2 linked regions of the Homo sapiens genome follow. The protein of the gene in region 2 interacts with the protein of the main gene of each other region in a pairwise test. Each region holds a gene or a part of one and is shown on either strand. Other genes may lie near its edges.

The links.
Region 1: the proteins of SINHCAF (region 2) and ZFP41 interact in binary tests that used the Homo sapiens proteins (3 or more experiments, as listed by UniProt).

Annotation. Positions count from the first base shown.
Region 1 is NC_000008.11:143,242,223-143,249,938, reverse strand, and holds the start of ZFP41 (zinc finger protein 41 homolog), read right to left. Parts: upstream 3,001-7,716; 5' UTR 2,797-3,000; exon of another isoform or gene 2,190-2,796; intron 250-2,189; 5' UTR 96-249; coding exon 1-95. UniProt on the Homo sapiens protein: A putative DNA-binding regulatory protein associated with meiosis in spermatogenesis.
Region 2 is NC_000012.12:31,281,132-31,288,152, reverse strand, and holds part of SINHCAF (SIN3-HDAC complex-associated factor), read left to right. Parts: intron 1-368; coding exon 369-519; intron 520-5,281; coding exon 5,282-5,441; 3' UTR 5,442-7,021. UniProt on the Homo sapiens protein: Subunit of the Sin3 deacetylase complex (Sin3/HDAC), this subunit is important for the repression of genes encoding components of the TGF-beta signaling pathway.

The sequences.
Region 1 (7,716 bases), on a different chromosome or scaffold from region 2:
CCGGACACCTTCTCCTCTCTGAGCGCACTCTTCTGCACGTCTGCCTCCTCCCTTGGGGTCGGCGTCTTCTTTTTTCTGCCTGCAGGCTTCTCCATCATTCTGTTCCTTGGAAGCGTGAGGGCTAAGGGGCTGCTGACCTCTCTGTTGGCCCCACTTCCTCAATGGCTTGCTTCCCACGCACCTCTCCACACTCCCAGCGTGGGACTGATGCTCTGCACCAGGAGGCCAAGGGCCACCATCCTCTTGGTGCTGGGGAGAAGCAAGAACATGAACCTCAGATTAAAGGTTTGCCTTTCAGGGGATGTGGGATTCAGGTGCGGCCCCTCCCTTCCCATGTGTTCCCCCAAGAGTGTCTCAAACGGCATTGCTGATCTCCCCGGAGCCCCACCTGACTCTCTCCCGGCCTTTCCTTGTCTCGATGAAGGGATCAGTTGCTCACCAAGGAATCCTTGCTCCTCTGCCGGGGTTCCGGGTCTGCACACCATGTCCACAGGATCTGATGTACCCACCAACTGCCCTGCGGCTTCCCTCCTCCACCCCCGAATCCCCCTGGTTCCTGCCGTAGTCTCCTTCTCCACCATACTGGGCTTGGAACCAGTCACCGTGCTTTGAAGCTACAGGCTGCAGGGACCACACGTGCCCAGTGGAGAGTGCTTCCATCCCCCAGAGGCTGGGTTCTGAGTTCATGAAACCAGGGCTGCCCCCCTGCCATGGACCACAGCAGCCAGCAGAACCCCTCATGTCACATCCTTCCCACCTCAGCTTCCTGAGTAGCTGGGACTACAGGTGGGAGCCACCATGCCCAGTCATATTCTAAGAAATAATATTCCGTACCCTTTGTATTAGTTCTTGGTCAACCAGGCTGGAGTTTGAGGCCAGGGTTGACCCTAGGTAGAAAGTGGAGCTGATATGCATGTCGTAAGTGACACAACTCAACACATAAATACTTTGAATTCTCTTTGTTGAGAGGAGGTTGGTGGCCTTCCCTCCTCTCCCTCATGAGTGCAGGTAACACATAAACTCACTACAGATTTCCTATCTCAACAAGGAGGGTCTGGTCTTTTCTACAGGAAAATGTTTAGATGAATGTGACTCAGTTTCAGGCCAACATCACTTTCTAGGGCTCTATCTAGAGGTGGCGTGTGGGAGGAGGCAGATCAGGTGGGCGCCAGAACTGAAGATGAAGGCCACGTGTGCTGAGGGAGGATGCAGGCATAAAGCAGCATCTCTGCTGGGGTGGGCAGGGGGTGGGCCCTGGTGCCCAGGATAGAGGATCACAGCCCAAGCTGGCTGGAGTTTGAGGCCGGGGTCCAGCTCTGGTAGGAAACAAAGGTGAGAACCAAGAACCAGCACAGAAGACCAGTCGACCAGCTGTTTGCCTCATGGGCAGGGCGGAGCTGGAGAAACGGCAGCTCTCCAGGGCATGGCGGGAACCTATCTGGCTCTCTGCAGACTCCACTCCACGGCGGGGCGGGGGGTGGTTTGTGAACCCACTGAGCCTAACGGCTGCTGCCCGAGGCCTGTGTGGGGGTCCTCCATGCTGTACAGCACTGTTCCTTCTTCCAGACACTTGTCACTGCACGTGTGGCTGGTCACTGACATGGCAGTCTCCTTATGCGACAGGGTCTCCTGAAGGCGAGGATCGTATCTTTTTTATCTCCAAATCCTAGTCACATACTGTGGTCAGGGAACATTCTCCATAACGGCTCTGTCGACTCAACTTAGGCTGGCAGGTGCTAACCGGCAGAGACTGGAATGACTCACTTCTCTACACGCTGCCCACCCTGAGAAATAAAATATTTCTTAAAAGCAGAGTGGACTGGCCGGGCGCGGTGGCTCATGCCTGTAATCCCAGCACTTTGGGAGGCCGAGGTGGGCGGATCACGAGGTCAGGAGATCGAGACCATCCTGGCCAACATGGTGAAACCCTGTCCCTACCAAAACACAAAAAATTAGCTGGGCGTGGTGGCACGTGCCTGTAGTCCTAGCTACTCAGGAGGCTGAGGGAGGGGAATTGCCTGAACCCAGGAGATAGAAGTTGCAGTGAGCAAAGGTCGCGCCAGTGCACTCCTGCCTGGCGACAGAACAAGACTCCGTCTCAAACAAAAAAACCAAACCAAACCAAAACAAAAAACCCCACACGCAAAAAACAAAAACGGATTGGACCATAGCGATTTTCTTGGCCTCACCTCACAGGCCTGTAGACAGGAGTGATTAGCTAGTTACAAACAGCGCAACCCACGCTTGCCACACCCCTAAAGACTGGGGTTCTGGTTCTGTCGTGCAACTCCAGCGTAGCTCCGTCGCCTCTCTGGGCGGAGGACCCTTCACTTGTAATATGAAGCTCTGGGTATCCGTGGGCGGTAAGGGCTGCCTAGAAAACCTCACTCACCCTGGCGCCTCCCTCCACTACTTTCAGGGATCTGGGTCTCATGGAGAGACTGGAACATTAGTGGGCTTGAGATTCAGGGGCAATCTGCACTAAAACAGCCTGCTGGGTCCACGGCCTGCCAGGGGCCTGCTAGCTGTGCCAAGGCCTGAGATGCCAGGCATCTGAGCCAGGCGGAGGGGCCCGCCAGGGTCCCGTGCGTGCTCCTAGTTAGAGGCTCTCCTTTCAACGGCAGAGCCCCGCGGCCCACGTGCAGAGCTAGGTCGGCCTCGGGGCCGGCGCCCGGGAGGTGCTCAAAGCCGGGTCTTGCCACATCCCTGGAGCGCCGGGGTGCGGGGAGGCGGCGGGGCCCATACCGACGCTGCGCGTCCTGGGCCGGAGGCGGCAGGCAGGAGCCCAGTGAGTACCTGGCTGGAGACGAGAGGCGACGAGGACCTCCCGCTGCAGAGCGCGGACGCGCCCGGGCCCTACCAGGACTGCTGGAGGGCGGGGAGAGGCGCGCGCCCCTCGCGGGGGCCGGAGGCAGGAAAGGAGAGCCCTAGATGCGGGACCCCCCAACAGCTCCCCACCAGTGCCAGCGTCCCCGTCGGCCCTAGGCACCGGCAGGAAATGCCCGCCCGCTGACCCGCCCCTTCCGGCGGCCGCGCTAGGAGCCTGGGCCGGACTCGGTGATGGTGGGCGGTGGAGGGCTCGGCCCGAGCGGCTCCATCCCCAGCCGACTCCGCCCCCGAAGACCCCGCCCCGATCAGGCCCCGCCCCCTCAGGCTTCACCCATAACTGCCGCCACGCCCGCAGGGTCCTCCCCGAGCTGACCCCGCCCCTTTACAGTCGTCTATGGCAGGCGCCCTCCCGAAGGCTCCCCCGAAATCAGGTCCCTCCCCGAGCGGGCCCCGCCTCCGAAAGCTCCTTCCCGAGCCGGCTTCCCCTCATGCCCCGCCCCCTCAGGCTCCGCCCTCGTGTCCCGCCCCCGAAAGTTCCTCCCCAGCCACCTCCCCACATGCTCCGCCCCCAGGCTCCGCCCCATGTCCCGCCCCCAAAAAGCCCCGCCCCGAACCGGCACCCTCATGCCCCGCCCCCAGCGGCCCCGCCCCGCAAGGCCCAGTCCCCAGCAGCTCGGTCCCGAGCCGACCCTGTCACGTAGGCTGCGCCCACCAGACTCTCCGGATCCGACGCGCGTGGGCTCCTGGCTCCAGACCCCCAACGGGGAGGTCGCGGCCGCGTGCTGGGAGACTTGTCCCTGAGGACGCTCCCCGCCAACCCCCAGCCCCCGCCGACCCCCAGCTCCCGCCTCCGCCGACCCCCAGCCCCCGCCTCCGCGGCGCCCACGGCTTGCCTCCACGGGAAGTCGCTGTCTCCGCCTTCAGCGCGGAAGGAGAACCGACGCCTCTCCAGGCCGCGGGCCCCTAGCTAGGCGGGCAACGCCTCCACCGCCGCCGCCACCGCGTGCGCGCCCTGGCGAGCCGTCCCCCACCACGTGGCCCCTGCCGCTCCTCCCGCCGCAGGCAGCCCCTCCGGGATGTGCTCCCAGCCGCTGGCTGTGCTCACTCCACTTCCTGCCTGCCCAGATCGCACTGAGCCGCCAGGCCCGCCAGAGCCCCGCGTGTTAGTTCCCTACGTACCGCAAATTGGGTGTCCTAAAACGACATCCGCCTATTATCTCAAGGCTTCTGTGGGCCAGAAGGCCAGGCTTAGCTGGGTCCTCAGCTCTGGTCAGCCGCTGTGTTCTCATCTGGGGGCTGGACTGGGGAAGGATCACTTCCCACCTCATGCGATTGCTGGCAGAAGTCATGTCCTGGTGCCTGTAGGACTGAGGGCCGGCAGGAGCTGCTCTCAGCTCCCGGGGGCTGCCTGCCAGTCCCTACTGTGGGAGGGTGGGCGGTTCACAGGGTGGCCGCTTCCCCAGGGTCCGTGGGAGAGCCCCACCCCCAGATGGAGTCCTGTGGAACAGAACCTAATTGTGGGTGACATGCCACCCCCTCGGCCCAGTTCTACTCAGATTCAAGTCACAAGTGCCGCCTGTAGCCAAGGGAAGGATGGGCATTGGGCTGGCTCTGGCACATCTCCTTAGGATATCTGCAGCATTCTGCCCCCCCAACACTTCCCATTTCCACTTTCTATATGATTTCCTTATTATATTTATTATTAATTATCCCCCGCTCCCACACTCCCATGCAAATCAGCTCTTGGAGGGCAGCCACCTGTTCTTGTTCTGGGTGCCTGATGTGTGCTGGGCCCTCGTGTCGTGTGGACTGAGTGAGCATGAGTGGAGATCTTAGGTGCTGCTGGTGTCGTGGCACCCTAGGAACTGCCTGCCCCCACCCAGCCCTCTCTCCAACTGCCTCCTGGACTTAGCAAGGTGTTGAAAACCAGGCAGTTCTGCTCCCTCCTCGTCCCACCCCCCTCTCCCATCCTGTTGCTTTTACCTCCCAATGTTTTAAACCACCCACTCTTGTCCAGCCTGCTTCCTCTGTCCCGGCTGCAACCCCATCTCCTCTCACCAGCATTACTTCTGTGCCCTGCCCTGGGGTCTCCCTGCCTTCATTTGGGCTCCCCTGTCCACCCCTCCTACAGCAGCTGGAGGGACTGACTTACCGGGCAAACCCACAGTGGCCCTCCCAGCTTCACGCCTGTCCTGCAGGATGAGGTCTGGGCCCCCTTAGCAGCTGCAAAGGGGCCTGCACAGACTTGCAGGCCGCCCCTCTCACCACCCTTTCCCCTTCCAGGAGACTCAGCAGCAAGTGCTTGCCCTGCCACACAGCATCGGCTGCATGCCTCAACCCTGGGCCTTGAACACCCCCGCTCCGCCTCCGCCTGACAGACCCTTTCCTGCTTTTTAAGACTCCACCTGTTCGAGCTCCTCTGTGCCAGCCCCGGCCTCGCCCCTGCCAGCCTTAGGCCAAGGCTGCGTGGGTAGCTGTCCATACAGGTTACATGCTGCACATGACCCTCGGTCAGGGCTTGTCTTTTTCATCTTTGTATTATCGGGGGCCAACACATAGCCCATAGCAGGTGCCTAATCCATATTTATTGAGCAATTGATGACTGATGGGGCTGGGACAGAGAGAATAAGACTGAGAATAAGAATGGCAGGGTGGGCGCAGTGGCTCATGCCTGTAACCCCAGCACTTTGGGAGGTCAAGGTGGGTGGATTGCTTGAGGTCAGGACTTCGAGACCAGCCTGGCCAACATGGTGAAAACCTGTCTCTACTAAAAATACAAAAATTAGCCGGGTGTGGTGGTACGTGCCTGTAGTTCTGGCTACCTGGGAGGCTGAGGCAAAAGAATTGCTTAAACCTGGGAGGCAGAGGTTGCAGTGATGCTGAAATCATGCCACTGCACTTCAGCTTGGGTGACAAAGCGAGACTCCATCTCAAAAAAAAAAACAAAAGCAAACAAACAAAAAACAAAAGCAGAAGAAGGAGAAAGGTGTCCTTCCCCTATCTCAAAAGAGACAGCCCCTTGCCTTCTAAATGAGCCAGGTGGCCCCTCCAGTCCCTTCAGGCGTGGTGGTGGCTGGGCCGGCCCACCAGAGACTCCATTTGGTGCCAACACCATTGGTATGTGATATGTGGGCAGAGGCTGTTTCCCTGGCCCGGAATCTCCCATTGTCACCAGACCCCCCCGCTCCAGCTACCCTGTAAATATGGAAAGAAGCTCCAAGGGCTGAGGACCCCTTTCCTGCAGAGCTTCCCACAGAGGCAGCCTCTCTGAAGAGGGGCTGGGGGCCCCAGGCTCTGCCATGTCTCTGCTCCTCATTTCTCTCGCACATCCCTGTTTTGTGCCCTGCCTGCGTGCTGCAAAGGCTGGAGCTGCCCGGAAGCCCAGGCCTCTTGTTCTGGGTGGCGGGCTGCCTCTCATGGCTGCCTGGGCACCTCTGGGTCACAGTCCTATGTTCCGATGTGGGAGTCCTATTGCTAGTGAGTGGGGTCCCAGTCTGCTCTGCAGGGGACAGCCACCAGAGAAGAGGACTGAGGACAGGAGACAAACACTTCGGTCTCTTAGCTTAGAGAGGGACAGAGAACTGCTTTCCTCCTGAGTGGTTTACTGTCTGGCCTGTTGGATTGAATGGTGCCCTTTCACTTTTCCCTACTGCCTGCACAACCACCCGGGAGCTTTTCCCTTTTCTTCCTCCCCCTCCCCCTCCTCCCCTCCCCCTCATCCCCCTCCCCCTCCCCCTCCTCCTCCCCCCCTTCTCCTCCTCCCACTCCTCCTCCTCTTCCTGGTGTTTTTTTTGAAGTCATGCCATTTCAACTTTGTCAGAACACACACAGCACATATGGTTCTTCCCCTCTCGACTGCACTTCTCTTTCTATGTTGGGTCTACCATTCAATGTATCACCCCCGTGGGTCTTACGGCTGACCCGTAAGCAGCTTGTGGTTGGAGGAAGCCCATCTAGGAGGTTCCTCCTGATGGGCCTATAGTTGCAGGACCCCTGAGCTCTGGCAAGTTTAAAACTGCTCTCTTGAAGCTGTAATTCCTTGAAGGAAAGCTTGAATGGCTGCACAGTTCGTTGTTTTCTCCCTTTTCTTGAGATTTTTGAAAATGCTGCTTCGTTGTTGCTATGTTCATTTTTATTGATTTTGAGGAGTTTCAGGCCCATCTAATTCTCATGCTCCTGAAAGTTATTTGATGTTTCTGCCTGGAAGCCCTGATTTTTGCAGTATATTATGTAGGGTCCAGCCCCACAGGGTCGGTGGGTTGGGAATTTTCTTTTTCTTTTTTTTTTTTTTTTTGAGATGGAGTTCCGTTTTTGTTGCCCAGGCTGGAATGCAATGGTGTGATTTTGGCTCACTGCGGCCTCTGCCTCCCGGGTTCAAGTGATTCTCCTGCTTCAGCTTCCCAAGTAGCTGGGATTACAGGCATGTGCCACCACACCCGGCCAATTTTGTATTTTTAGTAGATACAGGGTTTCTCCATGTTGGTCAGGCTGGTCTTGAACTCCTGACCGCAGATGATCCGCCTGTCTCGGCCTCCCAAACTGCTGGGATTACAGGTGTGAGCCACCACACCTGGCATTATTTTGGGAATTTTCATAAGCTAAATCATCTTTTCATTTTCCCCTTTCTTTTTATAGTGGTTTTAAATAGATGAAGTTACCCCTTAGCATGTCTGTGGACAGAAGTTTCAGTTATTTTATGAGATTCTTAGTCCAAGAGGGACCTTTCATGTCAGGGTAACAAGGTATGGTTTCTTTACTTAGTGCCTGTTATTTTATTTATTTCTCTATTATTTATTTATTTTTTGCAGGGGGTGAGGGGAGTCAGTGGAGAAGGGTGCTGTGAGGTTTGATTTTTTTTTTCTTTTTTTTGAGATGGAGTCTTGCTCT
Region 2 (7,021 bases):
GCTGGGGATTATGAGGCAAAAGGAAAATCCAGAAAAACTAAGGAACCTACCACCATGGCTTGCCTTGGGTCTTGAGCTCCCTAGATGATCATCACCTTTTGGAGTCTCAGGTTTGTTTTATATATAATATCCAGGGATTTTAGTTGTATAAGCAGGAGGAATAGGAAGTATGTCTATTCCATCTTCTTCACTTCTTTAAAAAACACGTTAGTCTGAATATCTTCAAATATCAGTAGTGCATAGAAAATGAATTATTTTTTACTTTTTCTTTTTTACCAACTCTTTCACAGTGTCTTATGCTGAGGTTTAGTTGCAATTACATGTAATGAAATTGAAAATTTTATTTTTTCTCTTAATCTTTATTGCAGATTCTGATGCTCACAGTACCACCTCAAGTGCCTCCCCAGCTCAATCTCCTTGTTACAGTAACCAGTCAGATGACGGCTCAGATACAGAGATGGCTTCTGGTTCTAACAGAACACCAGTTTTTTCCTTTTTAGATCTCACTTACTGGAAAAGGTAAAAGAAACAAAGTATCTCTCTAACCAGCAAACCATCTTAATTATGGGCAGTATTTTTCTACTTCCTTAGCAATTAAATGGCATTTGGCAAACAGTTGGTAACACACGATTGCAGTGGATTAAGCAGGAATTGAGCAGGGAAGTGGGATTTTTGTATGTTCTTCCTATTAAAATTTATTTAAAATAAAAATCACATCAAGGTACCTACATTGCCTATTGCTAGATAAGTGGAGTAGAAAGACAATATGCAGTGGAGAGAATCAGTAAAACTAAGAGTTGGTCCTTCAAAAAGACGTGACCAAAAATATACTAGAGATAAAGTGGATCAGGAAAAGGAGATAATACACATAAGCAATTTTAGGAAAGAGAAAAGAGACTTAGGTATAGATAAAGCAGACATTTAAAAAATAATAGGATATTATAGACAACTTGATGCCAATAAATTTGAACATACAGGTGAAGCAGGTACAGTACTAGAAAAAAGACATGTTGCTAAAGCTGTCTCAAGAAAAAGTGAAAAACGGAGATAATCTCATAATAAATTGATTCAGGCCAGGTGTGATGGCTCACACCTGTAATCCTAGCATTTTGAGAGGCCAAGGTGAGGGGATTGTTTGAGCCTAGGAGGTTAGGTTTGCAGTAAGCTATTTTTGCACCATTGCACTCCAGCCTGGTGATAAAGCAAGACTCTATTTAAAAAAACAAACAAACAAACAAACAAACCACAATAGGCAAGTTGTACTAAACATCCAGGAACAGATGATTGGAGCCTATGCACTGGCTTTTCCAGACTATGGATAAAATAGGGCATAGGCCCCAAGCATTTTTAAGGCTGATATAAGTTTGATACCAAAACAAATATATCATCAGCCACTAGGGTTATTCTAGGTATGTAAGATTGGTTTGAACATGAGACGATCAACTAATATAATTTACCACATTGACAGTTTCTTTTTTTTTTTTTTTTTTGAGACGGAGTTTTGCTCTTGTTGCCAAGCTATAGTGCAATGGCTCGATCTCTGCTCACTGCAGCCTCTGCCTCCCGGGTTCAGTGATTCTCCTGCCTTAGCCTCCCGAGTAGCTGGGATTACAGGTGCATGGCCACCACACCTGGCTAAATTTTTGTATTTTTAGTAGAAAAGGGGTTTCACCATGTTGGTCAGGCTGGTCTCGAACTCCTGACCTTAGGTGATCCACCTGCCTCAGCCTCCCAAAGTGTTGGGATTATAGGCGTGAGCCACCGTGCCCAGCCCACATTGATAGTTTCTAAAGGAAGGTGTTGTCTTCTTAGTGGTGCAAAGAAGGAGTTTGACAAATTTGAACATTCCTTTAAGGTTTAAAAAAAAAAAAGTTTTAGCAAAATAGGAATAGAAGGAAACTTTTTTACTTAGACAACAGGTATCTTACAAAAAGGACAAAAGTACATAATACATAATTGTGATAAAATGAAAGCATTTTCTCTATGATCAGGAACAAATCAAGAGTGTTGACTATCACCATTTCTATTCAGCATTATACAGAAGGTTCTAACCAATACAATATTGGTAGTAGTGTAGTAGTAAACACTTTAGAACAGTGCCTAGTGCATAGTGTAAGTACTTTAAAGTACTTTAAACCACTTTGTTTGCATTTATTTAATCTTTTTTTTTTTTTTTTTGAGACAGAGTTTCACTCTGTAGCCCAGACTGGAGTGCAGTGGTGTTATCTTGGCTCACTGCAATGTCCGCCTCCTGGGCTCAGGCAATTCTCCCACCTCAGCCGCCCAAATAGCTGGGTCTACAGGCACGCACCACCATGCCTGGCTAATTTTTGTATTTTAGTAGAGATGGGGTTTCGCCATATTGGCCAGGCTGGTCTTGAACTTCTAGCTTCAAGTGATCTGCCTGCCTTGACCTCCCAAAGTGCTGGGATTACAGGTGTGAGTTACTGCACCTGGCCTTATTTAGTCTTTATGACAATTCTGTGAAGCATTATGTGAAAACACAGGTACAAAGAGGAAGTACTTTGTTTAAGGTTACATAGTAAGTAGAGCAGGATTTAAATCTAGGCAGTTTGGCATTAGAATGATACATTTTATCATAGTGTTAGGAAATATAAAATAATGTAGTAAAATATCAAAAGCCCTTTGGAGGAGTTATGTAAAAATCATACAATATTGTCGAATAACATTTATTTATGTGTGTGTGTGTGTGTGTGTGTGTGTGTGTGTGTGTATGTATATATATAAATATATGTCTATGTTGAGAGAGAGAGACTCACTCTGTCACTTAGGCTGGAGTGCAGTGGTGTGATCTTGGCTCACTGCAACCTCCGCCTCCTGGGTTCAAGCGATTTTCCTGTCTCAGCCTCCGGAGTAGCTGGGATTACAGGCATGCACCACCACACCCTGCTAATTTTTGTATTTTTAGTAGAGATTGGGTTTCACCATGCTGGCCAGGCTGATAGTGAACTCCTGACCTCAGGTGATCTGCTCGCCTTGGCCTCCCAAAGTGCTGGGATTACAGGCATGAACCACTGCGCCCGGCCGTTGAATAACATTTAAAGACACCTAAATAAATTGAGAGGTATAGCACATTCATAGATATTATTAAACTGACTGTTAGGGAGATGATCACTTTGTAGATTCAGGGTAATTGCAGTCAAAATCCCAACATATTTATGGAACTTTACAAGCTAATTTATAATTTATATAGAAAAGCAAAGGGCCCAAAATAGGCATCTTCAGAAGAAAAAGAAAGATGTGGATAAACTTGCCCTAACAGAAATCAAGACATATTATGAAGCCATGGTAATTAATGTGTTTTGGGACTAGGAATAGAAAAATAAACCAATGGAATAGTATAGAGAGCCTGGAAACAAGGCCACATATGTATATAGCACTTGTTATGTGATACATGATGTGGGGGTGATTGGTGGGCGAAAATGGTCTGTTCAATAAGTGTTGCTAGGATATTAAGAACAACATGGTTATTCATGTGGAAAAATTGGGCTTGGGTTCCCTACCTCACACCATAGACAAACACCAATTACAGATGCATTAAAGTAGAAAATAGATTATGACTTTTGAGTGGGAAAGGATTTTTTTATGACAGAGTACTTAAGCATTTAAAAAAACCTCCAGGTTTAATTACATTATAATTATGAACTTAAATTCATCAAATAATACCATAAAGAAAATGAAATGATATCCAGCACATATATCTGACAAAGGATTAGTATCTGGAATATACAGACAACTCCTACAATGGAAGAAAAAGATAAACCAACAGAAAAATGGACACACTTAGAAAGGAATCATGAAATAACTCATTAAATGATAATGTGTTCAAACTTTTTGAAAATCAAGGAAATACAAAGTAAAATTTCAATGAGATACCATTTTATACTCATTAGATTGGTGAAAAAACTAAAATAAAGTCTATTACCAAATGTTGGGGAGAAGGTATGGAATGATGAGAACACTGTCAGTTATAGGTGTAAATAGTTATAACCATGTAGATAAATGGCCGTTTTTGAGTAAAGTTGAAGACGTTCCCATTCCTATATGCCAGCAATATAAACTAGTAAAAACCTTTAAGATGTGTCCACTGATTTATACATTAAAATAAGAGTAGATAAATAAAACTGTGTTATATATTCACAGGGTAGAATATTATACATGTTAAAATGAAATAAAGCTCTATAACAATATGTATGGATCTCAACGTTGACTAAAACATTGCAGAATACATTGTGATTCTGTGTGTGTGTGTGTGTGTGTGTGTGTGTGTGTGTGTAATGGATAACTGTGCAGTATGATTAGAGATGCCAACATACGGTGAAACCATGAAGTATAAAGAAAAGGGAGTGATAAACCTAAAATTAAGTGGGGAGAGGATGAGATGAGGTAGGATGGGACTGTGGAGGGGCCTGCAGGGGGCTTCATAGGAAATGATCTTTTTTCCCTTAGAGTATGTGGTCTGTAGGCATTCTCATTGTGTTGTCATTTTTGATGCCTTTGCTAACACACACCCTTTTTTGTTTTTTTTTGAGACAGAGTTTTGCTCTGTCTCCCAGGCTAGAGTGCAGTGGTGTGATTTCGGCTCACTGCAACCTCCACTTCCTGGGTTCAAGTGATTCTACTGCCTCAGTCTCCCAAGTAGCTGGGACTACAGGCACGTGCCACCACGCCTGGCTAATTTTTGCATTTTTAGTAGAGATGGGGTTTCGCCATGTTGGCCAGGCTGATCTCGAACTCCTGACCTCAAGTTATCTGCCCACCTCAGCCTCCCAAACTGCTGGGATTACAGGTGTAAGCCACCACACCCGGCCCACACATGTATTTTTATCTACTCAGTATTTAATTAAAAATTACCACTCAAGCACTTAGGAGTTGATAAAGAAAAAAAATTAAATATATATAAAAAATTGCTAGCTGCATCAGCCTGTTTATGGTGGCTGATTTTTTTTTCAAGAGTTGGTGATTTTGGAGGAAATAGTTAACAACATCAGGGGCAGCCTTTGAAACTGACTGCTGTCTTTCAAAATGCCGTCTTCCTCAATATTTGAGAAGATTCCAGTGTGGCCTTTAAGGCAACTGGGTAATTCCCCTTCTCTAGCTAATTGGGGTTACTCTAGGAGCCCTTTCACTTGGAATGTGCAAGATTGTAGAAGCACAACTCTTTGGTTATATTGGACTAGTTATAATAGTGAGTAGATTTCTTTTGTATTCCTATTTTTCTTCCTTATTAATGTATCTTGTTCTCCATTTTTTCTTTTAGACAGAAGATATGTTGTGGGATCATCTATAAAGGCCGTTTTGGGGAAGTCCTCATTGACACACATCTCTTCAAGCCTTGCTGCAGCAATAAGAAAGCAGCTGCTGAGAAGCCAGAGGAGCAGGGGCCAGAGCCTCTGCCCATCTCCACTCAGGAGTGGTGACTGAGGTTTTTATGTAGAAGGGGAACAAAAAAAAAAATATCTGAATTTTGAAAAACCACAAAGCTACAAACTGACCCTCTTTTTTTTTTGAGACGGAGTTTTGCTCTTGTTACCCAGGCTGGAGTGCAGTGGCGTGATCTTGGCTCACTGCAACTTCCGTCTCCCGGGTTCAAGTGATTCTCCTGCCTCAGCCTCCCAAGTAGCTGGGTTTATAGGTGCCCGCCACCAGACCCGGCTAATTTTTTAGTTTTAGTAGAGACGGGGTTTCACCACGTTGGCCAGGCTGGTCTTAAATGACCCTCTTATTTTTAACTTGGATACCTGCTATTCTGCCAAAAGACAATTTCTAGAGTAGTTTTGAATGGGTTGATTTCCCCCACTCCCACAAACTCTGAAGCCAGTGTCTAGCTTACTAAAAAAAGAGTTGTATATAATATTTAAGATGCTGAGTATTTCATAGGAAAGCTGAATGCTGCTGTAAAGTGCTCTTTAAGTCTTTTTTTTTTTTAATCCCCTTCTAATGAATGAAACTAGGGGAATTTCAGGGGACAGAGATGGGATTTGTTGTATGATAAACTGTATGTAGTTTTTAGTCTTTCTGTTTTGAGAAGCAGTGGTTGGGGCATTTTTAAGATGGCTGGCTACTCTTGTTTTCCCTCATGATAATAAATTTGTCATAACTCAGTAACATGAACTTGCCCCTAGAGGTAGTTGTTAATAATTTTGAAATATTAAGGTCTTGCCAAGCTTCTGATGATTCACACCTGTACTACTGATTATTAAGCAGGACAGACTGAGCTTTCTGTTGCAAATACCTTGGAGGAGAAAGTAATTTCTAAATATACAGAGAGGTAACTTGACTATATATGTTGCATCCTGTGCCTCCCTTCATATTAATATTTGATAAAGATTTTAATTTATGTAAAACTTCTAAAGCAGAATCAAAGCTCCTCTTGGGGAAATGGCAAGTCTTTAGGATAGGCAAGACCCTGTATGAATAGTACCAAAGCATTACCGCATGGTAGAGAACACACTCGATTAAAAATGTTAAGCTATCTGAAAAATAAAATGTGCAAGTCTTCAGGATGGCACAAAACAAAGGTTAATGCTTCTTGGGGCACATTTCTTAGAGGGCTTGCTGAGTGTGTAAATATAATCGACTTTTGTTTGTGTTACATGACTTCTGTGACTTCATTGAAAATCTGCACAATTCAGTTTCAGCTCTGGATTACTTCAGTTGACCTTTGTGAAGGTTTTTATCTGTGTAGAATGGGTGTTTGACTTGTTTTAGCCTATTAAATTTTTATTTTCTTTCACTCTGTATTAAAAGTAAAACTTACTAAAAGAAAAGAGGTTTGTGTTCACATTAAATGGTTTTGGTTTGGCTTCTTTTAGTCAGGCTTTCTGAACATTGAGATATCCTGAACTTAGAGCTCTTCAATCCTAAGATTTTCATGAAAAGCCTCTCACTTGAACCCAAACCAGAGTACTCTTACTGCCTCTTTTCTAAATGTTCAGGAAAAGCATTGCCAGTTCAGTCTTTTCAAAATGAGGGAGAAACATTTGCCTGCCTTGTAATA